Regions from separate parts of the Homo sapiens genome. Here all the other regions are linked to region 3. Evidence: fine-mapped expression QTL. A gene starts in region 3. Each other region holds a variant in brackets. All regions are shown on one strand. Distances are between the middles of the regions.

Region 1 (10,652 bases), 140 kb after region 3:
GATCATGAGGTCAGGAGTTCGAGACCAGCCAGGCCAGCAGGGTGAAACCCTGTCTCTACTAAAAGTACAAAAATTAACCGGGCATGGTGGTGGGCACCTATAATCCCAGCTACTCGGGAGGTTGAGGCAGGGAACTGCTTGAACCCGGGAGACGGAGGTTGCAGTGAGCTGAGATCACACCATTGCACTCCAGCCCAGGCAATAGAGTGATACTCCATCAAAAATAAATAAATAAATAAATAAATAAACAAAAAAGAAAACATATGTCATCTCTCCCTAAAAGAGAAACCCAAATCTCTTTAGGTTAAAACTTTTCAAGACTGTAGTGACAATTACTTCCTTCCTCTGCTGCCCATTCCACATGCGCAGTCATGGGCTGCATAACAACATTCTGGTCAACCACAGACTGCATATATGATGTGGTTTCATAAGATTATAATGGAGCCAAAAATGTTCTAGCATCCAGTGACATCGTAGCCATCTTGACATCATCACCATCATAACGTCATAGCACAATACATTATTCCCATGTTTGGTGGTGATGCTGTTGTAAACTAACTTACTTTTAAAGTCATATAAAAATATAGCACATACAATTACGTATAGTACCTAATGCACGAGGTTGATCATAAACCACTATCTTACTGGTTTGTGTGTTGAGTATACTTTTTATTGTTATTTTAGCGTGTACTTCTTTTGCTTATTAAAAAAATACTGTAAAACAGCCTCAGGCAGGTCCTTCAGGAAATATCCCAGAAGAAGGCATTGTCGTCGACAGCTGCATGCCTGTTATTGCCCCTGAAGGCCTTCCAGTGGGGCAAAATGTGGAGGTGGAAGACAGTGATATTGATGATCCTGACCCTGTATAGGCCTAGGCTATATGTGTGTTTGTGTCTTCATTTTTAACAAAAATATAAAAAGTAAAAAAAAAAAGAAAAGTAAAAAATATAAAAAAGCTTAGAGAATAACGATATAAAGAAAGCAAATATTTTTGTACAGCTGCACAATGTGTTTACGGTTTTGTGTGTTTTTTTGTTTTTTGTTTTGTTTTTTGTTTTTTTGAGACACAGTCTTGCTCAGTTGCCCAGGCTGGAGTGCAGTGGTGTGGTCTTGGCTCACTGCAACTCCGCCTCCCGGGTTCACGCCATTCTCCTGCCTCAGCCTCCTGAGTAGCTGGGACTACAGGTGCCCGCCACCATGCCTGGCTAATTTTTTTGTGTGTTTTTAGTAGAGATGGGGGTTTCACCATGTTAGCAAGAATGGTCTCGATCTCCTGACCTGGTGATCCGCCCGCCTAGGCCTCCCAAAGTGCTGGGATTACAGGCGTAAGCCACCGCACCCAGCCAAGCAGTCTTAAATGACCAGTTTAACCTCTCATTGAATGGAAATACAGTGTGGCCCCTAAAGAAGCATTCTTCTCTTGGAGACAAAGACTCTTAGGGGAGGAGGAGAAAATATTTTGCAAGTGATCTAGTGGTATAATAACAAGGGATGCCATTTTATCTTTCATCACTGGTTTATAGATCCAAGTATTTTGGCTGTCAGAAAAAGAATATCTACAGGTTTCTTGTTCAAAATATATACTGTGTTCTATAGAAAACCATGTCTCAGCAGTACAATGTATTACCTGTATTACACAAGTCAAGTATTATATGAGACCATTCAACTCTACTCTAGAGTAAGCTGATTTTGGTAAATGGAAAGACCAGGAAATCTCATGAATGTAAGGCTATTGTGTTACTTACTTGCTATAAAATATCTCCCTTTTTCAAAGCAGTGTTGTGTAAAATGCCATGATGGTGATCAACGTATTCAGCAAATCCTTATGTTATTAGTGGCAGAAGCATTATGTACAGTGAAGGCAAATATGCATCCATGATATGTGTCTATTCCAATAAGGGCAAATCACAGTCCCCTCCATCATAGAAGGGGTATAATATACCTAACCTGCCACCAGGTGGAGGGTTACTCTCCCAAATGTATGATGTGCCAATCAGGATTGGCTACTGGTGCTGACAAGTTGGGCCCTCAGCAATGGTGTTCAGGACAGCCTTGGAAAAGGGGGAACACATTGTTACACATGTCGTTTATAATGTGCCCTTAACCACTGGACACACTGCAAGATGTCACTGCATGGAAGAGAAAACCAAATTTTGCACATTCTCACTTATAAGTGGGAGTTAAACACTGCGTACTCATGGACGTAAAGATGAGAACAATACACAATGGAGACTACTAGAGCGGGGAGAGAGGGAGAGGAGAATGGGTTTTAAAACTACCTGTTGGGTACTGTGCTCACTACCTGGGTGATGAGATCATTTGTATCCTAAACCTCAGCATCACGTGATATACATGTAACAAACCTGCCCATGTACCCCCGTATCTAAAATAAAAGTGAAAATTATTTTTAAAAAAGACTTCACCAGTGCGAGACTCCATCTCAAAAAACAAACAACAAACAAACAAACAAAAGACTCCACTGCACTGCAAAGCCACAGTACTGCGTTTTTCATCCTCAGCTATACATGTCTTAAAGAGGCATGCTAGTACCTGCTACTTTCTGCTCTCCAGGTTCTGTCTTCATGACATCCCTGTTACAGAAGGCCAGGGTGATGTTCTGGCATGATGGTGAGATGATCAAGGCTCCTAGAATCTCTATTGTGATACAGAACTGAAAATTGCCATAACAGACATCAAAGAGTAACAGTGGATTCCTGATTTTTTTTTTCGTGTGAGAGCAACTTTTTTCTGGGTTCTCTGCATATTGGTATTGAAAAAACAAAGACAAAAATTATAAAGCTTATGAGTAGCTGCACACAGTTGCTAGGAGCTACAGTTGCTGTTGTCACTTGATTTACCTTGCCATAATCTGTCATCTTCCAAGATGCTTCCATATTCTTCACAGATCAGTTGGTGAGTTGAGATGAAAATGTGACAAAAAGCACCATCCTTGCAACTTTCAAGTCTTTGATGGTAACAATGACCTTGACAATTTCACCCATTTGCAAAGAAACTTTAGATTTACTATTCTGGAGGAAAATAACAGTTCCACGGGTTCTTATTTGGATATTTCTAACATAATAGGCCTTCCTCCGTGGATCAGGGAGCCAGGCATTTCTTTCTAGCCATGCACACAGTTAACTGGGAAGGATAGCCTTGGAGTTCTACTCTCCTCATAAGGTAGACTCCAGGAAAAACAACATTTCTCAGATAGCCTCCGTAGCAAAGCTGGTAGACTGTAGTGATGTCATGCATTCCCAGACTTGTTGAACCAGTGTTCAATAATCTCTAAAATATCTAGGTGTTTTCCTTTGTTATTGTATATGGGTTCCCTAGTAAAAGGGCTCAGGTCTCTTTGGGAGAAGGGTGGGAAGAACAGTGATCACATGTACTTGTGATGTTGTCAAGACTCCAGCCTCCTCTTCATTCAAAGGGCTGTGAGTTTTTGAGCTGATTCAAATGCAGGAATTGGGTAAGAGGCTGTTACTCTCTATTTGAGGCTCAAACCAGACCTTTCTTTATCCATCCTGAAGTTTTCTGTTACGCAGACCTAATAGGACATTTGTAAACTATCCATGAATTTTGTGTCAGAGACTTTACTATCCCTTAGCAAGTAGCAAAGATCCCTGTGGGTTGAAGCATGTACTTCCCACTGTGGCTCAGCTGCCTAATATTTGGTCCACACCCATTTTATCTCTGACAGTTGGATGCTGCTATTTGACATCCAGAAAGACCATGTCAGTAGTAGCATCTTCCACTCACGTTATTGCCTAAAGAGAGCCAGCTAACGAGCTTTTTAGAGATGTTGATACTCCCCACCCACATGCAGTTATCTACATCCTGGTGGGTGCCATGTCTTCCATGCTCACTCAGGTATGAGGTTAAGGGATAGATTAGTGGACAGTCCAATCTTCTACATTCCTATCTCTCTAGGACTTTGGTATCTTTCTTGCTCATTGCACTGAGGAATTTCTGGCATATCAATTTCTCTTAAGAAGGCCACCACTGAATTCAATTTAATTCTGCCAAAAGAGCAAGTTGCTAGAGGCACTTCAGGGTGGTCAAGCTAATTATTTTAACCTAGACTATCTTTACAGAGTATGCCTAATGAAATATTTAGCCTAATCCAAAACTATGTCCAGCCCTCTCTAGCCTAAATCCCTCAGAATCTGTGAATCACTATTCGAGGGCTTATGCTGGGCCCTGTTGGCCAGTGAAGGCTCTCAGGTCTAATCTGGTAAGACAAGACACTGGCACAAGTGAGGCAAAGTGACTTTGTTACTCACATGTAGTCACAAGGATAAACACAAGCCTAGGGTCCACGGCGAGCCAGCCTTTCAGTGAGAAGGAAAGTGGTGCAGTGCAGATGGAATCTCATTGGTATGTGTTCCACATTCCACTGCAGCTGAGGGACCCTGGAAGTATTTCGTTCTGGGTTTTATACCCTGGGTGCAAATTGGATTGCTGAGCATAAGTACTGCAGAACATCCTAGTCTGGGAGGAAGGAAGATATAGCCTGAGATGTTCTGGACATTTCCTTCTTATCTTAGGATGTTGCATTGCAAGCAAGAGAGGGAAGAGCTGGGCCGGCCAAGGCTATCCAGGGACCTGTCCTGCAGGCAGTACTAAAGTTTTCTCAGTTACATAGACTTAATGGGACCTTAGAGAACCATCCATCATTTTTTTTTGCCTAGAGACTTTACTCTCCTTTAAAAGTATGTGTGAAACATACTTTTAAAAAGTTTCTGTTAGTGGGCAGTTCTTACAAATCGTTGGTGTGTAAACCTTTTCCTAGGTATGATTTGTTTTTAGCATCCCAGGGCCCACAGGGTTCTGCACCTAGTTATACGTTAGAGACAATGTCTGGGAGGGGTGGGGAGGAGGCCTGGAGGACATTTTAAGAGGTTAATGCTATGAATGAAGCCATTAGGAGGTCTTTAAGCAAGGCAGGAAGAGGATCATCAGATTTGGAAAGAGGGGTGTTTTCCATTATACAGGTCTTTGGGGGTTAGGAGTATAAGGCCCCCAAATCCTCTTCTTTGGTCCAGTTCCCATATTCAAGATTATAGTCATTCCTCTTTGATGCCTTAATATCCACCAATGAAATCAGGCAATACAGTGAATTCCTCTGACTCTGAATGTTGGCAACCCTCAGACTCAACCCTTGACTTTGATTTTTGGCTACAGAAGCCCTCTGTCTGCAGTAAAGATAAGTGATTCTTTCAGCACAGCCATAGAAATCAAAGAAAGTCCCTGGTTTTCTGACCATGCCTTGGGCTAACAAATACTTTGGAAATTGTTTTCTTTCTTTAAGCTCTTCAGCTCAGAAGCAGCCAGCTTACCTTATCATCCTTGCATTCCATTTACTTGAAGGCTTCTTGACAGCAGACACTTCTAGAATCAATTACTACACCCACCGGGGTTCTAAGTTGCAAAGAGCAGGGCTCACTGGAGCTAGTTCAATCAGGAATGCAATTTATTAAATCACATGAGAGGCTCCTGGAGACTGCAGATGGGCCAGGGAGCAGCTTGAACAATGGCATGGACAGCTTGCTCCAGAGGAAATCTGACAGGTGTCCTGCACATTGTGTCACAGCCTGCTCCATGATGCTAGATTGGGGGGTGCCACCACTGGGACCTCTTCCTGTTATGTCTCAGCCAAGACCCACTAGCCTTCCTGAAATGCTTTAAGGGCATCACCCCTTTCACATCAC[G/C]CTTTTCTGAGCTGGAATCTCCAGTGAGTGCATGGGACTGGCAGAGCTCATGCCTCATGCCTGCACTTTGCTCTCAAGGTGCTAGGAAAGCAAGGTGTTCCTTTAACTTTGGGTGAGAGCACAAGGTGAGAAATTCTGCAAACTTTAGATAGGGATTCAAAAGGTATTATGAATACTTTACAAATATGAAGGTAGCTGTGGACTTTAACCAATGCCCACTGCAAAGAGCCAGCCCCAAATGTTACCTACCCCAAATGCCACCTCCTATCACCCAATCTAAAATGGCCCACACCCAGGATACTCTTTGTGCATAGTCACATCTTTTAAGGCATATATCATATTTTGCAACTATCTTGCTGATGTATTTATTTGCTATTTTTTTGTCTCTCACCTAATTAAAATGTAAAGCTTTAGAAGAGCTTAGCACAGTTCCTGGCAGATGGTTGGTACTCTGTAAATATTTGTTGAATTAATGTAGCTGTAAAATGAGATGTTTCTGAATAATGATCTTAATGCTGGTTTTCAAATTGTCTAACACTTTTTTCTCAAGGTGCAGCTGGATGGCCACCTAGGTGGGGAATCCCCATCTGGGACCGAGCTCTCATCTGTCTCTGCCCCTGCATCAGCCCAAGGAGTTTAATCTCTTCATTGTTAGCTAAACAGTAAACAATAGAGTTTTTAAAATTACCTATTTAACAGTGAGTTTTTTGACACCTCAAATTGTAAACTATTTCCTCCCTGGGTTAAGTCATTTATACAGGAATTGTTGGTTGCTACAATAAAGTGAGACAGATGACCTTAATCAATAATTTTGTATTTTTGAGATCCTTACCCTGAATTGGAAACCTACTAAGTTGTTCATCTGTTCAGAACCCTACAAGAGCTTGCCAATACCTAGAATACTAACTCCTCCCCCAGCAGCACTCGGAGCCCCTGACAACTTACTGTCCCCCTTTCTTTCTATCTTTGTTTCCTTCTGTCCTGCACAATGAGCTCACATTTCAATCCATGTGTGATGAACACACTCTCAGAATGCCAGAACTGAAAAGGACTCAAAAAGCAATCTTGTTAAACCTCTTGTTTTAATACAGGAAAATGCTAAATCCCAATGAGGTTAACTGATAGAAACATAGTACACACTACTTAATATTTCATTGACTGAGTAAATTTCCCAAGATCATACTCCTACTTAGTGGAATAGTTCAACTTTGAAAGCAGTCTCTGAGCATTTTTATCCAGTGTTTAAATTTTTGTTTCAGTCCTAGTAATGGATAACATTTACTGAGCACTCACTAAGTGCCAGGTATATACAGGAACACATTTAATCCTTGCAACACCCTTATGGAGAAGGTTACTATTGTTATCCTACCTCAAAGCTGAGAAAACTGATGCACAGTAAAGCTTATGTAATTTAATCATAGCTGCACAGTTAATAAGTGCCAGAGTGGGGATTTGAACTCCAGAGCCTGTGTGCATAATGACTGTGTGATTCTGCCTACTGTGGGCTGAACTGTTTCTCCTCAAAATTCATGCATTAACTTCCTAACCCCAGGAACTCATAATGTGATTGTATTTGGAGATAAGGTCTTTAGAGAGCTAATGACAGTAAAATGAGGTCGCTGGGATGGGCCCTAATCCAACAGGACTGGTGTCCTTATGAGGAGAAGAGATTAGGACACAGGCACCCACAAAGGGAAGACCATGTGGGACGCAGGGAGAAGGTGGCCATCCACAAGCCAAGGAGAGAGGCTCAGGAGAAACCAATCCTGCTGACACCTTGATCTCAGACTTCCAGCCTCCAGAACAGTGAGAACATAAATTTCTGTTGTTTAAACCACGGGGTTGTCCCTAACCTCCAGACCGTGGACCTGTATTGTTCTGTGGCCTGTTAGGAACCAGGCTGTACAGCAGGAGGTGAGTGGCTGCGGGTCAGTGAGCATTATGGCCTGAGTTCCGCCTGCTGTCAGATCAGCGGCAGCATTAGATTCTCACAGGAGCACAAACCCTGTTGTGAACTGCGCACGCGAGGCATCTAGATTGTGCGCTCCTTATGAGAATCTAACTAATGCCTGACGATCTGAGGTGAAACAGTTTCATCTTGAGACCATCATCCCCCCTACACCGCCCCCAGCCCCCGCCATCTGTGGAAAAATTGTCTTCCATGAAACCCGTCCCCGGTGCCAAAAATGTTGGGGACTGCTGGTTTAAACCACTCAGCAGGCCGGGGCGTGGTGGCTCACGCCTGTAATCCCAGCACTCTGGGAGGCCGCGGCGGGCAGATCACGAGGTTAAGAGATCGAGATAATCCTGGCCAACATGGTGAAACCCCGTCTCTACTAAAAATACAAAAATTAGCTGGGCATGGTGGCGCATGAATGTAGTCCCAGCTACTCAGGAGGCTGAAGCAGGATAATCTCTTGAACCCTGGAGGCGGAGGTTGCAGTGAGCCGAGATCGTGCCACTGCACTCCAGCCCGGGCAACAGAGCGAGACTCAGTCTCAGAAAAACCAAAACAAACAAACAAAAAACAACAACAACAAAACCCTCTCAGCCTATGACACTTTGTTACAGCAGCCTGAGCAAACTAAGACACTGCCTACACGTGCATACGACTCCCATATCTCCCAAAGCCTCGGTATCTTCTTTCATAGCATTCCCTCCATCTCCAGTGTTCTTTGTCCCACTTTTTACCTCCCTTCTTTCATCCCTCCATCATGTCCCTATTCTTCCTGGACCACCTTAGTTACTATCTCCTCCATGAAGCTTTTTAAAATTAACCCCTAGCCTTCCGGAAGGAAGCGGCTAACTATGGCGACCGCCATGGAGCAGTGGGTTCTGGTGGAGATGGTACAGTTGCTTTACGAGGCTCCTGCTTACCATCTTATTTTGGAAGGGATTCTGATACTCTGGATAATCAGACTTCTTTTCTCTAAGACTTACAAATTACAAGAACGATCTGATCTTACAGTCAAAGAAAAAGAAGAACTGATTGAAGAGTGGCAACCAGAACCTCTTGTTCCTCCTGTCCCAAAAGACCATCCTGCTCTCAACCACAACATCGTTTCAGGACGGAGTCTTGCTCTGTCACCAGTCTGGAGTGCAGTGGTGCAATCTCGGCTCACTGCAACCTCCACCTCCCGGGTTCAAGCCATTCTCCTGCCTCAGCCTCCCGAGTAGCTGGGACTACAGGCACAAGCCACCATGCCGGCCTAATTTTTGTATTTTCAGTAGAGACGGAGTTTCACCATGTTGGCCAGAATGATCTCGATCTCCTTTTTTTAATTAAAAAGTAAACTTTAATGTCGAAAATGCAAACTTGGGGAGGGCAGAAAGATCACACACAAGGCTGTCACTTCACACTTGGAAGGTTGCGCCGCCGTCCTGTCTGCAAAGTGAGGAGTGCCAAGTGTGATCCGCCCGCCTGGGCCTCCCAAAGTGCTGGATTACAGGCATGAGCCACCACGCCTGCCCTGCCGTGTCTTCTTTCTCCTCCTAAGCAGCTGTTTTCGTCTCCTGAATTTTGATGTTCTACTTAACACCCTCATGTTCTTACGCATGTTGCCCTGCTGGAGGCGTCCTTCTCTTTGGGAAGCCTGACCCACCAACAGTGCCTCAGGAGATAGACATGGAAGCTTAGCCGGTGGGGGCCCCCCGTCTCTATCCCACCTCAGTTGCAGGGGAGGGGTCAGTTGCAGCTGCAGTGGTGGCCCCGACAGTTTTCTTTTGCGGGACCTGTGGCCGGCAGCTCTGGGTGGAGAAGACCTACTTGATCCAAGAACTGCAGGATCCTTGGGCTGCATGTCCTCCCCCACCATCAGCAAGCCTGGAGAGCTGGGCAGGTGGTCTTTACCCAGCACCTTCAAGGCCGCCTTCTCTGGCCACAGGGAGCAGCCCGGAACTGGGGCAGGGAGCACTGTTGGAAGTGGGTCAGGCTTCCCAAAGGGAAGGATGCCACCAGCAGGGCTGTGTGAACTGGCGACTCCATGGCCCTTGGAGTAGAAACTCACTGCATGCACCTGGGCCTTGTCAGTCTGGTTCTTTTCTGTCAAGCTCTTGAGGTGGACATTTCCCTCCAAGGGCCTGGGATTGTACCAGGAGGAAGTGAGGTTTCCCTGAGTCTCCAGGGGCCTAGAGGTGGAGGCTGCTTCCCCATTGCTACAGGGGCCCATTTTATTGTCCTCCTGCCCCTGGGTCTCTACCTGGTCTTTCACCTCCGTTGCTTCTTTGGGCTCTTCTGCCCTCACCTCCATCTTCAGGAGCCTGGCTGGGATCACCTGCTCATCTAATGAAGGAAGTTGAAGGTTAAACTTGCCTCTGAGACGAGGGATCCTCACGGGGCTGAGGTGTCCAAACATCATGGAGTTGCGAGCAGACAGCATGGGTTTCTTCCTTGAGGGGGGGCTCCAGACCACAGGAGGCAGGACCTTCTGTGGGGTGCCCGTGTTCCGAGAGATAAGACACAGCCTGACAGGGGCGCCGTCCCACCTGACTGGAAAAGAAGGCCCAAGGTGTCGCTGACGGTTGAAGAGGAGTGGGAAACGGCCCCAGATTCCCGGGGCAGGCACAGGTGCGGGAGCTGCAGGGTGAGCCCGGCCAGCTGGGAAGGCCTCACAGACAAGACGAGCAGGTTGCCGATGGCGTGGCCAGGACCTGCGGTGGGACCAGGAACAAAATACGCTTAGTGAGTTGCCCATTTTAAGCGAGTTGTGCACAGACGAAACTAAGGGTCAGAAACAGAGAGGATACTCCTAAGTCACCCACTTCTCTGTGGCCGGGTGCACACTGGGCATCTGGGAGTTTATGACATCACCATGGGGCTGGTGACAGAGCCAGGGTGTGGAGGAGTGCTTAGGAGCCCAGCGAGGGTGCCTACAAGAGGAGTCAAAGGGCAAAGGGTGAGACCCTTCCACCGGTCCAGCTGGACTCTAGCCTCAGGGA
Region 2 (10,652 bases), 24 kb before region 3:
TTGGCTGTCTATACCAATCACAAGACTTGTATTTCTCAGGACTGTGCAAAGTTAAGCCAAGTAGTTGAGTACAAACCAGGACAGGCGTTTAATGATACAGATGTTCTACAACATGTTTTCTTTTTTTCAGGCACCAGAAATCTATGTGGTTACTTTCTTTAGTTTATAAGACCACATGTAAGTACTTTGGACAATTGATGTATTTTTCCTTTTTACATTCAGATATTTAACAAAGCAAGGCACAGGTCTAGGCTCTGTATGAATCTATATCTGAAGAAGCCAAGTTGGAGCAGCTTACAAGCAGATCCCAGTCACTGACACCACCTTCCGAGGCTTAGTGATGAGTAGAAAATCCAGACCCTTCACCCCGCTGCTCATCTGAAATAGAGGACAATAACTGGAATCTCTATGCTCTCCAATAATGCAGGACTTGACTTTGAGTCTCTTCAATTTAATTGAACAAATATTTATTCAGGACTTACTACTGTGCTTAGGCCCTGAGGATTCCAAGCTGATAAGACTGATTCAGGTTAGGCCTATGGAATACAATTTAGAGCTTACAAGATGATCACCTAAGCCACTTTCATCATTCAGCTGGTGAAGAACTGAGCCCTGGAGAGAAGGAAGCTTCCCAATGGCACAAAGCAAGGGAGAACCAGGGTCATTCAAAAATTTGAAATGGTAAAAATGTAGATGCCATTACTATCAAAAAAGTGGTAGAAGATAAAGGTACTGTGTGCAAGTCCCTATTCTGTAGCTTTGGCCTTAGATGTGGATCCATTCCTTACCTGGACACAGAGGAAAGGCCTCCCTCCTTAATGTCTGCATAGGGCCACCCCCTCAGGTAAACCACCAGTGTGTCCTCTAATGTGTCCCCTCAGCTCTGGAACCAGAGTTAAGGCCACCTGACCCTCACCATGTGACTAGCTCTATCCTGGACAAGTCAGATATTAAACCCAGTATAATGAAAACCAGGTCTTTACATTAGAGATTTTTATTTCAATAGATATCAAGATAGACTTGCAAGCAAATTTGTGTATTTAAAGCATATGATATAATGATGGACTATGCATGCTAATTATTAGAAAGTAATAAGGGTGCTAGTTAAGTGGTGCTTCACTTCTCTGTGAAGAATTTTTTTTTTTTTTTTTTTTGAGATGGAGCCTCGATCTACGCCCAGGCTGGAGTGCAGTGGTGCAATCTTGGCTCACTGCAACCTCCGCCTCCCGGGTTCAAGTGATTCTCCTGCCTCAGCCTCCTAAGTAGCTGGGACTACAGGCTCCTGCCACAACGCCCAGCTCATTTTTTGTGTCTTTAGTAGAGACGGGGTTTCACTGTGTTAGCCAGGATGGTCTCGATCTCCTGACCTTGTGATCCACCTGCCTCGGCCCCCCAAAGTGCTGGGATTACAGGCGTGAGCCACCATGCCCGGCCTGAAGAAGTTTTTTGACTTCCTAAACTTCAAACTGGAAAACCAGCCTCCTCTGACTGTACCTGTACAATGATTTTGGTCCTTTATTGGGCTTAATTACATGCTAGTCTCCACCTTGAAGTCAGGGTCTGTTCCTGTCTGGCGCCTGGTAGACTCTCAATGTTTCTTGAATAAAGTAAATAAAAGATATTTTGAGATCTTAGTCCACTCTGGGGTGGCTTCCCAGAAGAGAAAAGCTGGGATTTATTTTAAGAAATGGAAGTAATTTGGCGGAAGGAGGCATATTTCTTCCTTAGTGCCCTCACCAAGCCTAGAAAATAGGAGCAGGTCTTGGGGTGGGATGGTGGGAAGGGTGTGTGGGGAGGAAAGGCACAAACTATGTGATTCCCCTATGGCTAGAGAGAAGCTCTCGGAGGCAGGCTAACTCTGCCAAGGTCAAGGAGCAAACAGGAATGGAAGCCTTGACCCTCGGTCCAGCCTCACACCACATGTTCTCTATAGGAGACACCTTTGTACGGAGCTTTGCACTGACCTTGAGAAATAATTTCCATCTGGAATTCTGGGTGAATCACAGGAAGGCAATCTGCAATTTCTCAAGTTTGCACTTGGCTGGGGTTGTTGAATCTATGTTGTAACCCTTATGAAACACTATTGCTCAAGAACATTCGAATGGATGCAACATTTGTAAATTAAAAGCCTGCTGCTTTAATTCCCTTCCAATGGACACAGTTAGACATATACAGAAGTCACAACTGGATGCAGCTGGAGGTTTGACTTTGAGAGGATGGGAGACTGGAAATCCCTGGGCATTTGGTCAGCACAGTAGCAGAGTGCTGGGGTTTGGGAAAGTAGCGGTTGGGTAGGAGAAGGTGTTGCATGCAATATTTTTCTTTCTGGTATTTGTCCCGGGAGATCCATATTGACACCTGAACTTTGTGACACAGTCGAGCCCTGCTCCACTGGCTTCTATACAAACAACATGATGCAAACCAGCTGGGGCCAAAGCAGTTACCATGGAAACCCTAGACTTTGGTTTGGAAAGTAAAAGTAAAAGACATTTATGATGACCACAGCAGTGGTTTGTACCAATGCACTTCTTGGGAAGTTTCTTTTTTATCCTGAACTTTAGCGTTCTTTTTTTTTTTTTCTTGCCCTGTGGAATTTGGCAAAAGAAAAATTTAAAATCAGATTGGAATTATTACCTTCCCCATTAAATAGCTAAAACAGGAAGTCTTGATTTATTCAAACCATATTTGCTAAAGACAAATTTAACTCTAAATGGAGAAACCGCTTAAAGGTCAAGTTTTGTCTTGGATACTTTGAAAGAGTTGCTAAGCATTTTTGTCCCCTATGGAGGCTGGGTTGACACCAGGAAGTGTTATTTGTGTTATTTCCCCTCAAACATTTTTCCACCTCTCAGTAATGACAGGAGAATTATGGCTATAGAGAGCAAACACAGCCTTATGTGGGCATGATCACAGTTGTAGCAAGCCAGTCATGATAGCAGGAATAGGCTGGTTGCATGAGTGCACTGGGTGAAGACTACAGAGGACATTAAGGGCACCAGAGGGAACAGGTTCAATTTCTACTCTGTCACTTACTTGCTGCATGATCCTGGGCCAGTTACTTAACCACCCTCTACCACAGTTTCCTCAGGTTGGAAATGAGAATCAAAATGCCCAACTGCCCCCAAATGTTCACATGGATTCAATGAAATAAAGCACATAAAGCATAAACTGAAATCCAAATGGAAAGCAATCACAAAAAGAATCCAGTGGAAGGGAAGTGGGAAGTAGCAGGCAGATCACGCTGACAGGTTGGCTTCAAGTGACCGTTCCAATCTCAGAGGACCACAGTCTCAAGGCCACCTACAGTTTCCTTTACCACCCACTGTCTGAGCCACCAAAGCCTACCCCACCCTTGCACCTCCTTTCTTACTCCCTTCTAACTGTGAAGGCATCGGGCTTTCCCAGATATCCTTTGCATTCAAATCCTCTCAACCACTGCCTGCAGATTCCCCTCCTTCTGTACTCATTTTTCTTTTCTTGGAAAAAAACAAAAACAAAATTGGACCCTTGGTGGAGCCCTTGATGGCGACAGCACAATCTTTCATCCCTTTGCTTTGTCCTCTCAGGTCCTGGCTCTGTTCCTCACCTCCACTTTTATTTCCACATCCTCCATGACAAGCCTCCTGTCCCTAACATTCAGCTGAAACTGTTCCTAGATCCCAAACTCCTACCCTAGCACAAGAGAAAGCTGGTGGCATTCCTATTTAGTGACATCTCTTCCCAACTCTGCATCAGCTTTGATAGGTCACAAATGACCTCAGATTACTAAACGCTATTTTTTTTCTCCTTTTCTTTCCCCTTGACTTCTCTGCTGCATTTGATATTGGCGCCACTTTCTCTTCACTAAAATTCTCTCTTCTTTTTGTTGCCAGGATTTTATGCTGTGGTGAGTCTCCCACTTTTCCAAAACGTTGTGCAAGTTCTGCTTGTTTTTTCTTCTGCCTACTGATGCCAACATATTCTAACATTCAGCCCTCCTTAGGAGATGACCCATTCCCTTAGCTTTGCTATTTTCTATTCCCATGACTCTCATCTCAAGAGCTCTTCTTCACCAAATGCCAATTATTTCTGCTGATCTCTAGGTCAACCCTGTCCAACAGAACATTCTGAGAGGATGGAAATGTTCTCTGCCTGGGCTGTTGAATGCAGTGGACATTAGCCATATGGAGCTATGGAGTACTTGAAATGCAGTTAGCCTGACTGCAAAACTGAATTTTTAATTTTATCTAATTTCAATTTCAATTTAATTTATTACATGTGGCTAGAGGCTACCATATTGGACAGCATAGTTCCAGATAGTTTCACTTAAACACCATCATTTCAGGCAAAATATGATCAATACTAAAGGTTTTCTGGAACCAACTCCTCTCCCAGCCTCTCTGTCTATGGACAACTA[A/C]TCCCTACTGCATGCAAAGCTCAAAAGCCTCTTTTATTAATTCCACTCTGATTCCTCAGACGCAGTCTCTGATTCCCATTGACCTGCCTTGAAATATCCCTGTTCTCTCCCCGACCTTCTGTATTTTACTGCCACACCCCTGAGCAGGTCCTCATTCAAACCTAAACAGCCAGCCTGAATCTCTCACTTCAACACACCTTGCGATCACTGCAGACCGGATCTTATTCTAACACTGCTCTGCAATGTTGCTTCCCTGCCTCAAACCCCCAGTGGCTCCCCACTTCCTCTGATTTCATGGCCAAAACCTTTGTCTGGTTTTCAAAAAGACACCCAGAATAATATCATCCCTGGTCTGGGTCAATAATATTGTCCCACCAAGTCTGGATAATAATATTGTCCCACCAAGTCTGGTTTTCCATGACTCTCTCTCTCCCTCTCTCTCTTTCTACACACACACACACACACACACACACACACACACACACACACCACTCAAGGATTATCTCACAAGCTCATGAATGTGCTGTGTTCACTCCTGTCTTGGAGCTTCTATTGGCTTTTCAAATCCGCTATTGGCTTTTCAAATTCTACCTTTCAAGACCCAGTTAAAGACTCCTTCCCTCTATGGAAACTTCCCTAATTAAGACCTGCCTGGCATATCTCCCCTCTGGATTCCTAGACCATTTATAATGAGTGTTATCTTGTCCTGATGACTATTGTTTCAAGTGTGCTATCCTTTTCCCCAGATTAGACTTGAAGAAAGTGGCTCTTCTTCTTCCTGACCTCCAGAAGACTTAGCTCAGAACCGAGCCCGCAGCAGATGCTCAGTGCTTTGTGAACATGTCTTGATTCATCAGCAAGTGCAGGATAAGAACTGGATGTGACAACATCTGAGAGCTCAGTGAACATTAGACTCGCCTTGTTAATAATTTACTCCCTTTGTCCCCTAGTTTCCTGCTCATCCCTCTATTTCTCCTGGCTCTTTTCAGCTTCAATTCCTCTCATTTGTCCACTTCTTCCCTTTGTCCAGTAAACCACATGGGCTGATCAGGGTTGGAGTAGAGAGTGTAGGATTGTCTATTTTCTCTTGGAACTGATGGCCATGGTGAACACCTTGCTTGCCATATGATCAACATGGCTCTATGAGGCAGTTAAAACTATGTAGACAAAATTTTTTTTGTCAGATAAAATGAGGATAAAAATACCTCCTCATCAACATATAGAGGAACTATGGAATTAAATGAATAATGAGTAATGGGCTAAGAATATAGGATTGGATGTACCAGAATCACAGTGCAACTGCCTCATGGAAAAGCTGGGCATTTTCATCTTAAGGGATGATCCAGAAGGGCAAAGTTTAAAACAAAGGAACTGATTCAAGTGCAATATTTTACATTGTGTAAATATCTGAAGGAATTCACAAACGGACCACAATGGCTGCAGAGACACAGTGGTAAAGTGCTTAATAAATTGGCGAACACGTGTTGTGCCATAAATGTTAGTGCATGAAGCAAGTTATGATTATTTGTTTCCCTTTGTGTTTTTCTAATCAAAGATTTAAAAATCATGGGAGTTTTGAGCATCATGAGATAACAAGTATTGTGATACAGGTCCACCATTCCTTTTCCAAAAACTTTGGTATTAGATGTGTTTTGGAAATCAGGATTTTTCAGATTTTATAAAGGTCATCTGGATCATATGTTGTATATTGTATACTACTACCAGTGGGATATGGGTCAGCACCCTACAATCAAACACAGAAATATTTCTGCAACACAACGTGTAAAATATAAAATCTACAAATGGACTCACCTGAGTTCAGATTGAGTTCACTGCCAAATGAGTTCTGATAAGGTCAGATTTTGGCCCCAAATTATTAATCGAGAACTTGCAATTTTCAGAGCTTTTGAACTTAGGAATACAGACATTGTGTACCTGTCCTATTCTACATCATTTTCTTTAAAAAGAGGTAGTCTTTTTGAAAGTTTCTATTAAACTTTTAGAGATGTAAAAAATAGTGGGTAGTAATTACAGAACTTACTACAAAGCTACAGTAATCAAAACAGTGTGGTACTGTCATAAGGATAAAGGACATATGAAATGTGGAATACAATTCCATTTGATGGAATAGAATTTAGACTCCAGAAATGAACTCATTTATCTATGATCAGTTGAATTTCGACAAGGGTGCCAAGACCACTCAGTGGGAGAAAGAATAATTTCTTCAATAGATGATGCTTGGACAATTGGATTTCTACAAGCAAAAGAATGAAATTGGAAGCTTACCTCCTATCATGTATAAAAATTAACTCAAAATGGATCAAGGACCTAAGTGTAACTATAACTCTTAGGAGAAACTATAACTCTTAGGAGAAAACATAAGGATACATTTTTGCAACTTTGTCAGGGGTGTTCAATCTTTTGGCTTCCCTGGACCACAGTGGAAGAAGAAGAGTTGTCTTGGGACACATATAAAATACACTAAAACTAACAATAGCTGATGAGCTTTAAAAAATTGGAAAAAATCATAATGTTTTAAGAAAGTTTATGAATTTTTATTGGGCTGCATTCAAAGCCGTCCTGGCCATGGGTTGGACAAGCTTGAATTAGACAATGACTCCTTAGATATATGACACCAAGAACACATGCAACAAAAGAAAAAGTAGATAAATTGGATGTCATAAAAATTAAAGACAGCTGTCCACCAAAGGATACTATCAAGAATGTGAAAGGGCAACCCACGAATGAAAATATTTGCAGATCAATTATCTGACCAGGGTCTGGCATCCAGAATATATTAATAACCCCTGCAACTCAACAATAAAAAGACAAATAACCCAATTAAAAAATGGGCAAAGGATGTGAATAGATATAACTCCAAAGAAGTTACATGAATAGCCAAACATGCATATGAAAAGACACTCAGCATTATTAGTCATTAGGGAAATGCAAAGCAACATCACTAGAGATACTATTTCACACCCACTAGGATGGACATCATTTTAAAAAATGACAAGTAATGGTGAGGATGTAGAGAAACTAGAGCCCTCAAACATTGCTGGTGGGTATGTAAACTGGGGCGTTTGCTGTGAAAAACAATTTGGCAGTTCCTTAATTAGCTAAACGTAGAAGTTCCATATGGCCGAGCAATTCAACTCCTAGGGGTATACCTAAAAGAACTGAAAACTGGTACTCAAACAAAAACTTGTACATGGATGTTCATAGCAATGCTATTCATAGTGGTCACAAGGCAGAAATAACTTAAATGACCCTCAATGGAGCAACAGATAAATAAAATATGGTACATTCATACAAATAAATAGTATTCAGTCATACAAAAGGAATGAAGTCCTGAAACATACCATAACATGGATGAAGCTTGATAACATTATGCAAAATGAAGAGGTATACACAAAAGGTCACATATATGATCCCATTCATATGCAGTATCAGGAATCAGCACATCCATACAGATTGATGGCTGCCAGGCACTTGGGGAGTGGGGAATGCCGAGTGATTGCTAATGGGACCCAGATTTCATTCTGGGGTCATGAAGTGCTTTGGAACTAGATAGTGGTGATAGTTGGATAACATTGCGAATGTATTAAATGCTACAGAATTTTACAATTTAAGATGGTTAAAATTGTGAATTTTACGTTATGTGAATTTAATTACAATTAAAACAAAGTGAGTAGACAAATATTGCCTCTTTGGGGACCTCAAGGCATCTGGAGACCTCAGGGTTTGTTTGGTTCATGTGTTTTGTTTTGTTTTGAATCACTAGCTAAGATGTTGGCAACACAGTAAACAAAAGCTGAACAATAATAATAATTGATGTCTGCTTTAAATGTGCTGTTTCTGATGTATTTTTGTAAATTTCAGGAATTCCTGTAGCATAAACCAGAGTTTGTTAATCTTGGCACTATTGCCATTTTGGGCTGGTTAATTCTCTGTTGTGGGGGCTGTCCTGTGGTTGTGGAACATTCGGCAGCACCCCTGGTCTAACCCACACAATGCCAGCAGCATCTCCCACCCCAATTGTGACACTATGACAGAAAGAGATCTTGGGCCAGGCGCAGTGGCTCATGCCTGTAATCCTAGCACTTTGGGAGGCCGAGGTGGGTGGATCACTTGAGGTCAGGAGTTCGAGACCAGCCTGGCCAACATGGAGAAACCCTGTCTCTACTAAAAACATACAAAAACTTAGCCAGGCGTGGTGGCAGGCACCTGTAATCCCACCCACTTAAGAGGCTGAGGCAGGGCAATCACTTGAACCCAGGAGGCAGAGGTTGCAGTGAGCCGCGATCGCGCCATTGCACTCCAGCCTGGGTAACAGTGAGACATCGTCTCAAAAAACGAAACAAAAATTATTCACAATAGCAAAGACTTGGAACCAACCCAAATGTCCAACAATGATAGACTGGATTAAGAAAATATGGCACATATACACCATGGAATACTATGCAGTCATAAAAAATGATGAGTTCATGTCCTTTGTAGGGACATGGATGAAATTGGAAATCATCATTCTCAGGAAACTATCGCAAGAACAAAAAACCAAACACTGCATATTCTCACTCATAGCTGGGAATTGAACACTGAGAACACATGGACACAGGAAGGGGAACATCACACTCTGGGGACTGTCGTGGGGTGGGGGGAACAGGGAGGGATAGCATTGGGAGATATACCTAATGCTAGATGACGAGTTAGTGGGTACAGCGCACCAGCATGGCACATGTATACATATGTAACTAACCTGCACATTGTGCACATGTACCCTAAAACTTAAAGTATAATAATAATAAATAAAAAAAAGAAACAAAACAAAAGAAAAACACTAACAAAAACAAAAACAAACAAAAAGAAAAACGTCTCCAGACCTTGCCAAGTGCCTCCTGGAGGTCAACATCACCCCCGATTGAGAACTACTAATGTGACCTCTTTAGGAAAAGTTTATTATCCTGGGATTTTTTCCTCTCCTAAAGTTTCTTTTTAAAAACCCATTTCTGAGATTGTTCTTTAGTAATTTCCAAATGACAGCAAACTCATGAAACAAAACAACATGAAAATTCCAGGTAAATGTCCAAAACCTTTTTCATTAAGAGGAACTAAACTACGCAGTCCACTTGTAGACAGTAGGTTTCTCACTGGCAACGAATGCCCTGGCAATAAGCTAAATGTGGATAGCACATAAAAAAAGTGAATGTGCAATGTTCCCTTTTCAAACCCTTTTTGGGCAAAGACGACTGCTCTGCCAGCATTCCAGTATAATGACAGCTCATGTGCCCTTTGTCAACCTTGCCTCCTTCTCCTTTGAAAATACAAACCACACTTCTTCCCAAACTTCTTCTGATACCATTTAATGAGTCTGGGATCAGACACTGTTAGCACAGAGAGCAACCTGTGCTCCAGATCCCCCTCAGCAGCCGCTGCCAGCAGGAAGGGAGGGCTGAGTGTTCAGGACGCAGGGTTCCCTGGCTGCTTCACCAGCGCAGTGCTGCCTTTATCCATTTTATGTCTTGGATTTCTGAGTGGGATTTATTTTGCACAAAGAGTTCTGAAGCTGAGAAGTTTGAAAGCCACTGGCTCAACCCAAGCCCCTCTCCTACAGATGAGGACACCAGAGTGCAGAGCAAAGGGCAGGACCACGTGTGATTCCAGGGCTTTTAACTGTAGACAGGCCCCTTTCCTCTGTTACAGGGAAGGCAGCCAGGCAGCTCCTGCAAGATGTCACTAATCCCTTGCGTGCCTCAGTTTCCTTATCTCTACATGAGCATAGCAACCTCCATCTTCCTGGCTACTTCTGGGATTTAAATTAGACACAGTAAGTGCCATGCAAGTACCACTAATATGGATGGAAAGTTTGTGTCCTCCCCAAATCCACATGTTGAAACCCTAACCACCAGTGTGATGGTGTTAGGAGGTGGGGCCTTTGGGAGGTGATTAGGACTAGATGATGTCACGAGGGTGAACCCTCATAATGAGATTCATGCCCTTATACAAAGAGGAAGGTACCAGAGAGCTCTCTCTCTCTCTCTCTTCATCAGGTGAGAATGCAGGGAGAAGGCAACCATCTGTGACCTAGCAGGAGAACCCTCACCAAGAGCCTGACAATGCTAGAACCCTGATCTCAGACTTCCAGCCTCCAGAGCTCTGAGAAATCAATGTCAGCTGCCTAAGCTGCCCAGTCTATACCTGCCCAGGTATTCCATTATGGCAGCCTGAGCTGACAAGTCTACCGCTTGACATCACA
Region 3 (10,652 bases):
CCTTCAAAAATATAAATGAGACTGGCCACTCACCTGCTAAACACCCTTGAATGACTTCCCACCACAATTAGAATAATATGCAAACTTTACTTTGGCCTGAAAGACCCCATATGACTTTGGTGTTGTCTATCTCTCCAATCTCTTCTTGAACTTGACTGCCCCCTCCCTGTCTGTAGTTGAGCCATACTGGCCTCTGTGATCTTCATTGAACAGGTCAGGCTCTTTCCCATCTCTGTACTCGCTGCTCCCTCTGCCCAGGAAGCTCTTCTTCCCAGATCTTGCAAGCTTTGCTCTTCAGTCCAGTCAGGACTCTGCTCAAATATCACCTCTTTAGACAGAATTTTCCCCACTACCCACTAAAGCAGGCCCTCATTGTCTTTGTCACTTTCTAGCCTCTCATCCTGTTGATTTTTTGATAGTGCATGTTAATCTTGACATTTTAGGATACAATCATTTGCTTATGTCTACCCTTTCCAAATACAACCGTCTCATTGGCAAGGACTTTTCTGCCCTGTTCATCCAAAGTGCCTAGAACAGATGGTCCATAAATACTTGTTGAGCGAGCACACGCATGAATACGTGTGCAAAGGGGCTCAGGTAAAGAGTGTAATTTCTATAATTTCAAAGCTGTGATGTACTTCCAGGAGCAGAGTAAGTAATAATGATGGGCAGGCACAATGGAAGGCCAGGTATTGGATTAAGGAGGGCCTCTCTGGCAGCCCTACAGGACAGACATTTCTGCAATGATAGAAATGACCTATATCTCTGCTGTCTAAAACAGTAGTCACTGGCCACGTGTGACTATGGAGCACTTGAGATGTGGTCAGTGGGACTGAGGAATTGAGGAACTGAAAGAATTTTATTTAATTTCAATTAACATTTAAATAGCTATCCTTGGCTGGTGGCTATGGTATTAGAACCTGAAGAATCCCTTCCCATGGCTTGTGATTGCAGGATAATTGTGTATAACTCACTGAGTTGTCGAGGGGACTAATGAAATAAAAAGCTTAGGAAAATGTCTGGAACATAAGTGGCACAAAAAAATAATAGTTGCTATTATTCCACAGAGTTGCAAATTAAAGTACTTTAAGTATATGCCATTTAAATTAGGCTGTAAAGCACTTGAAATGGACTTTTATTAATGTTAGGCATAATGTTTTGTTTTTTAGAGTTGGTGGATAATCGATGTTTGGGTCTGTATTTGAGCTTACAAACTAAAAATAGCACACAACCATTTTGGGATCTCATTGAAGGAGATAGATGTCTATTCCAAGTGGATCAGCTTGCTGATACTTATAATGAGCTAATTAATTTTGACAACAGCTAATTTAGCATCTGCAAAAATTGGATTTGTAACATTATGTGTACTGTATTATTTTCAAACAGTGTTATCTGCAACTTCCCGGATGATTTTGGATAAGAGAAGTGTTTGTTTTAATACTTATTATTAAAATAAAAAAATAAGTATTTACTTATTGGAAATACTATGATTAATTATTTAAGGCTTAAATTGGTTTGGACATAAAATCATTTTTTTTTCTTAGTGGCTGACCATAATTCCTTCCATACTGAATCCAGAAAATAAAATTAGCACAGATATAGAACATAAACAGACCATTATAACAAACCCTTATGAATAACCTAATGCAATAATAAAATCACACATTTGTCCAGAATAAGCATGGTACTTATTTTCAGGCCAAGAGAATTTGCATTCTGTAGCAGAGTGAAAATGGCATTCCACAGTCAGCCTAAGCACTTGGTGGAGACTCTGAGACTAGAGAGAGCAGATGCATTTAAATTGAACACGTGCTTATAGGCATTAAGAAAAGTTGACATTCTTATTAAAGAGACCAATTAATCTGCATCAGTTGGAAGCCACTTTACAGTCGAAAAAGTGCTCTAGGACCTAATATAAATGAGACTGGAGTAGAAAGAGAATGAAAATTCACTTTTCTACAAGGGAGCCTTTTCTAATTGCCCTAGAGCTGTGCTGTTTGAAATGCTAATCCTTCCTCTTCCATCCCGGACTGGGAGTCTGGGGTAACAGAAGCCGAGGAGGGTGAAGACCCCCAGATGCTAAAGTGAGGGGTGTTCAAGACTTACCAATGGGCATGACTAAGAAAAAAGGCAGCCAGCAGAGGACGAAGCAGCCGACCACGATGCCCAGCGTTTTGGCCGCTTTCTTCTCCCGGGAGAACTTGAGGAGCCTCACTGAGAAGTGCGTCTTGGTCTTGGCGCTGGCCATCCCGCTGCCTCCTGCCGGGGCGTTTTTCCGATGGATGCGGAGCGTCACTTGCTCCGAGTCCGACTTGTCGGTCTTGAGGCCAGACTTGAGGCCCCGGCTCTCCCTCTTGGCCACCACGTAGACGCGGCAGTACATGACCAGGATGATGGCCAGAGGCAGGTAGAAGGAGCCCAGCGCTGAGAAGAGCACGTAGCCCGGCTCCTCGTTGATCTGGCAGATGGTCTCGTCCTCGGGGGCCGGCTGCCTCCAGCCGAACAGGGGTCCAATGGATATGACCAGGGAGAGTGCCCAGACGCAGAGCAGAGCCATGAGACCCCTCCTCTGGGTGACGATGGTTGGGTAGCGCAGCGGGTAGCTCACGCCGATGTAGCGGTCGATGGAGATGATGCAGAGGCCCATGATGGACGCGGTGCAGCACAGCACATCCACTGCCGCCCAGATGTTGCAGAAGACCCTGCCGAAGGCCCAGTAGCCTAGGACCTCGAAGATGGCGGAGAAGGGCAGCACCGTGGAGGTGAGCAGGAGGTCGGCCACCGCCAGGTTGACGATGTAGTAGTGCGTGACTGAGTGCAGGTGTCGGTGACAGGCTACGGAGAGGATCACTAGGATGTTACCCAGCACCCCGAAAAGAATGAGGCCCCCCAAGATCACCCCGAGCAGAATGGCCTTGGAAATGTTCACCGGTGCCGGCGGTTGGGTGCAGTTGGAGCTGTCGGAAGCATTTCCCGAGAGAAACACCATGGTCCCAGCCGGGGCCGGGCGAGGTCCGGCTGTCCAGGGCCACCTCCCGGGCTGGCGCGGAGGCGGGAGCGCGGGAGCCGGGAATCAAAAGGTCTCGGCTGGAGGGAGCCCTGCCAGGTGGGTTTGGCTGGGGGTGAGAGCGCGCGCGCGGGTGGGAAACAACCCTGGCCAGCCCTGGGAACCCTCAGAAGGCCACATGAAGGGGCAGGGCATTAAAGACATGGCCAGGGGCGCGCGGGGCTGCCGGGGACCCTCTCCACCTGCCGGGCTGGCCTAGCCCGGGACCCGGACTCCCTCCCTACCCGAAGCTGGGTGCGAAGATCCAGGAGACTCCTTGCAACATGCAATTCCAGAATTACGAGAATCTGCTTTTCCGCGCTGTCTTATTCGTCCTGGCTGGGGGAAGATTCAGCATTCTGCACATGATTCGGAATTCAAAACTCCAGCGCCAGTCTCTCCCTCAAACCAAAAGATCAGCCGTCGACGCTCAAAGGCAGGGACCGATGGTTGGGTAGCGCAGCGCTACAGGTTGGGCGCTGCTCCTGGCCCGCAGTTACCTACATTTTGAGCTGCCCCACCGAAGGCTCCTGCTCTCTCCAGCTTCTAGGAGCACAGGTCAGGGGACGTAGGTGTGGAATATGTGCTGAGACCCAGGAGGCTGCGGGGCATCGTTTGACCGCGTCCACCTGAAAGAGCGCAAAGAGAAAGGCGGCTTTGAGCTAGGCGCCCCAGGGAAAGAGGCTGTGCTGAGCTTGACGGGTTGGGGGACACCAGTTGGGAGCCGGGTTGGTTCTGCGGTCCAGAAGCTGCTTCGCCCGGCAGCGGTGGAGGCGACTTCGGAGCTCATCTCGCGCCCCCACCACTGGGAACCTGCCTAGCGCACTCTACTGAGTCACCTCTGCCCGAGTTCAGGATCCGAAGCGAAAAACAAACAAAAAAACAAATCCCCAAAACCCCAGGCTCCAGCGCTCGAAGTCTGGATTTCGAGCGCAGGTACCACGAAATTAAAATCCTCGAAGCCCCGGAGGGGCGACTGCGGCTGGCGAGTGTGTCGCACGGATCCTAGCCGGGGAATTCTGGAGGATGTACTCGGTTTCCGTTAGAACAGGTTGCCTCGCAGTCACCTGGAGGGGGCGGCCTGGGAGAGGGAACAGCTGCGACCCAGGGACCTCAGGGCCAGGACCACGAGCACGCTCACTCTCACGCCGGTGGAATTCGCACTCGGGTGTGCAGAGCGCACCGGTCTGTCCACCAGCCAAGCTGGCTTGAGAGCCAGGTCCCGAGCGAAGCCGGGAGGGACCCGAAGACAGAAAGCGACCCAGGTCTGTCCACGACGCCTTTCCAAGCCTCACTGTTGGCCACCCGAGGGGCTCCAGCTGCCAGCCGTAGCGGGACTGGCGGGGGACGGGGTGGGGAGGACGTCCCTCTGCAGAGGGAGCTTTGCAAGTGACAGTCACTGCGGATTTTGCAGGCGTAAACATTAAGCCGGCATGCCAGCGGGCAGGGGCCGCCTTCGATTTTCTGGGCTGGGGGCCACCATCTGCGTAAGAAACCTGGGTTTCCACAACTGCGAACCTACCGCAGGGACTCGGCAGGACAGCGCGGCGTGAGGAAGTGCCCACCTTGCCTTCTGGGGTTGGGCCCTGAGGTGGGACCTCGGGCAAAGACTCTTGTTAAAATCGCAAGTTGGAGACCTCACAGGTGGTATTAAAAACGTGCCACTGCAGAAACCCTTTTCCTCCTACCTCGAGGGTGATAAACACAGGGTTAAAAAGACACTTGTTCAGTAGAAGGCAACTTCGCAGAAGATGTAAGGGAATCGGGGGTGGGGTAGAGGGGCCGGTATAAAACCTGGTGGAAAAAGCGGGAGGCGCTGGGAAAAGTGGGGGTTCCGTCTCACCAGACGGCGGGGGAGGTCTGCCCTCACCCACTCGGCCCTGCGGGACGCCGGCCCCGGCGCACTCACCTGAAGCGCCGCTGCTGAGCCACCAGCTCGCGCGCGGGGGATGTGGACCCGGCTTCGGTCCCGGGAGCTGCCTGCCTGCTCTTCTCTGGAGGCGGAGAGGGGACCGTGTCTCCGAGGCACCAAATCCTTGTCCTTTTGCACCCGCTGACTCACCCCTCCACCACTGATGTCTTTAAGCTCCTGAACCGCTGTCACTTTACCTGCATTTTTTAAAAAGAGTCAAAATAAGAAAAGAAAAAAAAATGCAGATAACCGGTAACTCCACAATCACCCTTTTAATATTCAGCTCCCCGACACCAGAAAAGAATAGCAAGGAACTTTGCAGCTCTCGCTGACGTAACTCAGGCAGTAGCCCAGCTAGTACCGTAATCTCCTGCTGCTACCGTATTACTCTACGGCAACAGGCACAAGTGCGTATACAGCTGTAATGTTTTCCTCTGGCCTAGAGGGGGTTGGGTTCTAGCGTTTCTTTAAAAAGGTTTGTGTGTGTGTGTGTGTGTGTGTGCGCGCGCGCGCGCGCGTGTGTGTGTGTAGAGTCATTTGTAGTAAATAACTTCTTTAAATGAGCTTTTAAAAATAACGAAAAATTGACACCCTTGCTAGATATTGCTGTGTGTATGGTGTGTTCATAGGAATGTGCTATAAAGTAACTTTGAACAGCTTGATTTGATTAACATTTGGCCTAGGTTTTGTTAAGATCAAGAAGTATATTAAGAATATTGTAATTCTAAATATGCAAGTAAATTATAAGGTGTTTTAAATAGCAAGTAAAATCAGATAAAATATGACAAATCTGATTGTAATGAAATTATATTTTCAGGAAGATAAAGTGGACATATCTAAACCTTATTTAATATGATTCACTTCTAATTTCTTTAGACAGATGAATTTTAAGAGCATTATGGCCACAGAGTTTGGTATTTTTTAAATGCCACACAATCTTTTCCAGTTTTCTTGAGAAAATGGTATCCTTTCAGGAGTGTTACTCTCTTTAATTCATTAATAGCTGGAGTATGAAAACCTAGCACCACCAGTCTTATTACTTTTTTTCTGGTAAATTACATAATCTGTTTACCTTGTGATTGAATAAAGTCACATGTGTTTCAGAATATCGGGAACATAGAAAAATGTTTCCCACTCCAATTCCCACCTCCTAAGTCATCTTTCATCTTTATTGATGCAGACAAAGTGGAATGTTCTTATTTACTAGGTCTCCTTAAACCTAGGAACAAGGAGATAACTTTAAGCAGTGGCACTTAAATTCTCTCCTGTGAACAAAATCATATTAATATGATTACCTTTTCTAAGTGAGATAATGTTTGGGAGGCTCTTTTATAGCAATAAATCTCAAAATGCCTCAGAGGAATGCCCATGAGAGGGTCAGTAAATCCTATGTCATGGAAGACCTAATATATGTATTTATTTCTCTATTGTATACAAAGTCCTCCACCTCTGCCTCATACCTGTAGGGATAGAACTCACACCTAACACATTTGATTTGAATTTAATATATTTTTAAAACTGAATTTCGTGCCATAGGAGGAGCATCCTGGTTGAACAGACAGCTCCACTTCTCATTACTAAGTCACCTGCTCTCTCTGGGATTCAGTCCCCTTAGGAGGAAGCTTGACCTCAATTCCCTGCACTTCTAGTACTTTATCATCAAATATGTGTATAATGTCTGTGCTTCCGAAATCCCATCCATCAGAGGGATATACACTGTTTTGTTTTGTATTCATTAACCTGATGCTGTGAATGCAAATTCTTCATTAAGATGTGTTCCATGGTAGATAAGGGAAGCAGTGCTATCAGCAAGCAAAGCAACTGAAAATTGCTCAGCTCTGCAAGGTCGAAAATTGCAAAAGTCTTTGTAACTCCCAGTCCCCACTCTACAACAATTAAGAATACACATAATCCACCCCTGCACCCACCTCCAATAATTAACTAGTTAATACTAAGATAAGGAAGAGCAGCTCTTCATGCTGCTAGCAGGTAGGTCTTTCAAATCTGCTTCTCAGCCTGTGACCATCAATCCTTGCAAAACGACCTCTCAGAACCAATTTTTCAGTCACCTACCATTGATTCACAAACAGAAAACTATCCATCTGTTGGTTACTCTTTAAAGAATAGTTGACGTGGACATCCCAGAAAGTGTCTGAGTTGTACACATGGGTAGGTGGAGTGGAGAGGAGTATGCTCTGGGGTCATAAAGATGCTATTCTGACCCTCCTATGCGACCATGGCAAAGCCTTGGTTTCCTAATTTTTAAAGGGAGACAATGAACCCCCACAAGGTTGTTATTAGTGTTGAAAGAAATTACGTTTCTCAAAAACTCAGCTCATAATATTCACTAACTCTATTATTAATCTTATTAACTCCCTTTCTGCTCATTTTGTATGCTACTTTATAGTGAAATATATTTCTAACCCAGGTAGTCCATGAACACTGGTAAATTCAGCTGGAGAATGTGCTAAGTGTCTTGAGCACTACACTTGAGCTAAGTGGTTTAATCAGAATGACCCAACATGGTTAAGTTGCAAGAGCTGGCCCTGATCACTGGCTGCTTCTTTTCTTCTCACTTTCCCCCTTGTTCTTTGTCTTGAGGGGCCATGCAAATGTGTGTGAACACCTCAGCCCCTACAGCCAGAAAGCTGCCTTCTTGGCCTCAGGCCTTGGGGTACACACATTTGTGATGTTGTCTGCCCAGAGAGAATGGACCTGAAAGTGATTGTGTGGCCATCTGGGGCAAGGGATTCTGAGTCCCAGGGCATGGTCTAGAAAGGAGGGCACAGGCTCCAGGTGGGCATATCACATTAGTCCTATGGCCAAAAGGAGTCAGAGCTGGACTCTCTAAAGCCTGAAACCCTAGCCGGGGTCCCTCTTGCCTGGCTCTGAGGGTGATACTCTGAAGACTTCCGGTGTGACAGAAATTGAAGAATCCCCTGAAGGGGTGGTTGTGGAAAGACTCATAAAATGATATTGCTTGATGTAGGATTTGTGGAATCAGCAGGATTGAGATTTGTAGACAAAAGTGAGGAAGGTGAACCATCAGCAGCCGCATTTTAGAGTGGTGTGTCAGGGATGCTGGGGGAATGAGTCTGATTGGAGAAGAGCTGAGCAATGGACATAAACCCATGCATTGATTGGCAGGACTTTCTTAGTGACTAGTGAGGAACTCGGCAAGTGTGGTAGGCTTAGAGGTTTAAAAAAATAAAGAATCTGTCTATCATTCCCTTAGAAAACAATACACAATGGAATTAGGAGCTGTGTTCTGGAATTTATGATTGCAAATGACAGAGTAGAAGACTTAATGTTAGTATCTACCCCAAAGACTTGGCTTTTCAACTAATTCTCCTAAGGCTTAATAAGTTAAAGAGGCAAGAAAATGAAAAACAATTCTCAGAAAGGTATTGATGCAGTATCAAGTCACAGCTCTCCAAAGAAGCATTGTGTTCTAATCCTTTATCGAACTGAGAACACTGCACAGCCCACAGATACTGCTGAGGGATGTCTTTGATGAGATAGTAATTCTGTCTTTGCCATCATTTTTCCAAATCTTCATTGCCCTGAGAAAATAACATACTCCAAGTCTTGGGAGTCATACCACCCCATCCCTACACTGTGGGACTATCATGGTAGGAATATGAGGTCAAGTCAGCCTATAGCTGATCAGCAAATAATTCCTTTAAAACAATAAGACTTTGCTCTCGCATAGCAAATCTAAGCTGAGGCATATTAATCAAATTTTTTCAATATCTTTGTCAATATCATCTGGAAATGGAAGTAAAAGAAAGTCAATATGTGTACCAAGTGCAGACACATTTTTATCTCATCTCTTCACTTGCTGATGGGCTGTTATAGGCACTTTAAAATGCTTATTGACTTGTATTTAATTATAAAATTTATGCTCATAATAGCACATTTGGAAAAGTCAGACAGAAATGTATGAAAATAAAAATTATCTGTAATCCTGCCACTGGAGAAATAGCTATTGTTAAATATTTGTCATATTTTCTCATTTTTTGTTAATGTGTATAAATTATATACATGGAAAAATATATATACACATGTACATACCAGGAAATATTTTATGTACATGTATTTATTATGCATACATATATATTTCACATATTATACATTGTATACATTATATAAAAGAGTGTAATCATACTGTACCTATAATTATATATCTTACTTTTTCACTTATATTATATCATGAACTCATTCTATTATTACATTTATACCAAAACATGGTTTATAAGAGCTCCACAGTGATTCTATTATATGTATATGCTATTGTCTGAATGTTTGTGTTCTCCCCAAAATTCATATGTTGTAGCCTAAATTCCGAGGTGATGGTATTAAGAGGTGGGGTCTTTGTAAGATGATTAGGTCACGAGGGTTCCATCCTCAGGAATGGACTTAGTGCTGTTATAATAGAGGGAGCCTCTTTGCCCTTCTGCCATGTGAGAACACACAGAAGGCGACATCTATGAAGAATGGGCGCTTGCCTAGCATCAAATCTTCTGGCACCTTGATCTTGGACTTTGCAACTTCCCGAGCAATATATTTCTTTTGTTTATAAATTATCTAGTCTAAGGTATTTTGTTATAGCAGCCTGAACAGACTAAGACACTGTATGTCATGACAAATTAAATATTTAAATATTCAGGCTTTAAAAAAAATTCTGATCTATAACTTGAACTGTGGTAAATCCTCTTATTTATTTATTATTTTACTTTAAGTTCTGGGATACATGTGCAGAATGTGCAGGTTTGTTGCATAGGTGTACATGTGCCGTGGTGGTTTGCTGCACATATCAACCCCATCATCTAGGTTTTAAGCCCCACATGCATTAGGTATTTGTCCTAATGCTTTCCCTCCCCTTGCCCCCCATCCCCTGACAGGCCCCAGTGTGTGTTGTTCCCCTCCCTGTGTCCATGTATTCTCATTGTTCAACTCCCACTTATGAGTGAGAACATGCGGTGTTTGATTTTCTGTTCCTATGTTAGTTTGCTGAGCATGATGGCTTCCAGCTTCATCCACGTCCCTGCAAAGGACATGAATTCAATTCTTTTTTATGTCTGCATCGTATTCCACGGTGTATATGTGCCACATTGATAAATACTCTTACATATAATATTGTACTCCAAATTTTCCTTAAGATTAATTTCTGTAACTAAAATTAGAATAACAAAGGTTATGAACATTTAAGAGGTTATAACAGATATTGACCTCTAGAAAGGTTTTACAAATGTAGATGTAAAATATAAACTCCCAATAGGAGTGCATAACAGAACCTGTTTTTTGTTTTTTTACTTATTTATTGTTTGTCTCTTGCCAACTTTGACTGTTTATAATAAACTAGACAAGTACATAATATATGTAAATAAAATAAACCGTAGGCAATTTTATAAGTAAAAAATAATATCTCATTTTTTAAAATTTGTATTCTTTAGTTATGATTTTATTTCTTTACATTTATTTGGCATTTCTATGTTTTCGTTTGTGATTTGCTTGTCCGTATTTCTGCTAGCCAGGTGATATGGTTTGGCTCTGTGTCCCCACACAAATCTCATCTCAAATTCTAATCCCCATGTGTCAGGGGAGAGATCTGGTGGGAGGTGATTGGATCATGAGGGTGGGTTCCCCCATGCTGTTCTTGTGATAGCGAGGGACTTCTCATGATATCCGATA

Direction of the effects. Alleles are on the strand shown, and positions count from the first base shown. SD is a standard deviation of normalised expression in the study named. Not every link is listed here.
In carriers of allele C in region 2, the expression in esophagus muscle of the gene that starts at base 5,298 in region 3 tends to be higher than with A alone (small effect, 0.32 SD a copy in GTEx).

What was found. PIP is the estimated chance that this variant, and not a neighbour inherited with it, causes the effect. A credible set is the group of variants that fine-mapping cannot tell apart.
Region 1: its variant is the best candidate, but not a certain one, in a credible set for the expression of ADRA1A in lung (TOPMed, PIP 0.79).
Region 2: its variant is the best candidate, but not a certain one, in a credible set for the expression of ADRA1A in esophagus muscle (GTEx, PIP 0.74).

The regions. Positions count from the first base shown.
Region 1 is chr8:27,001,964-27,012,615 of GRCh38, forward strand. It overlaps the pseudogene LOC100132229. Among named protein-coding and RNA genes, the nearest start is that of MIR548H4, 42 kb to the right of the region's middle. The variant G/C (reference allele first, on the strand shown) is at 5,715.
Region 2 is chr8:26,838,024-26,848,675 of GRCh38, forward strand. All of the region lies in intron 2 of ADRA1A (adrenoceptor alpha 1A), which reads right to left. Among named protein-coding and RNA genes, the nearest start is that of ADRA1A, 24 kb to the right of the region's middle. The variant A/C (reference allele first, on the strand shown) is at 4,397.
Region 3 is chr8:26,861,981-26,872,632 of GRCh38, forward strand. It overlaps ADRA1A (adrenoceptor alpha 1A), which reads right to left and starts at 5,298. Exons shown (of 3, transcript NM_000680.4): 1 at 4,956-5,298; 2 at 2,107-3,675. The coding sequence starts at 2,989. RefSeq lists an enhancer at 3,568-4,519.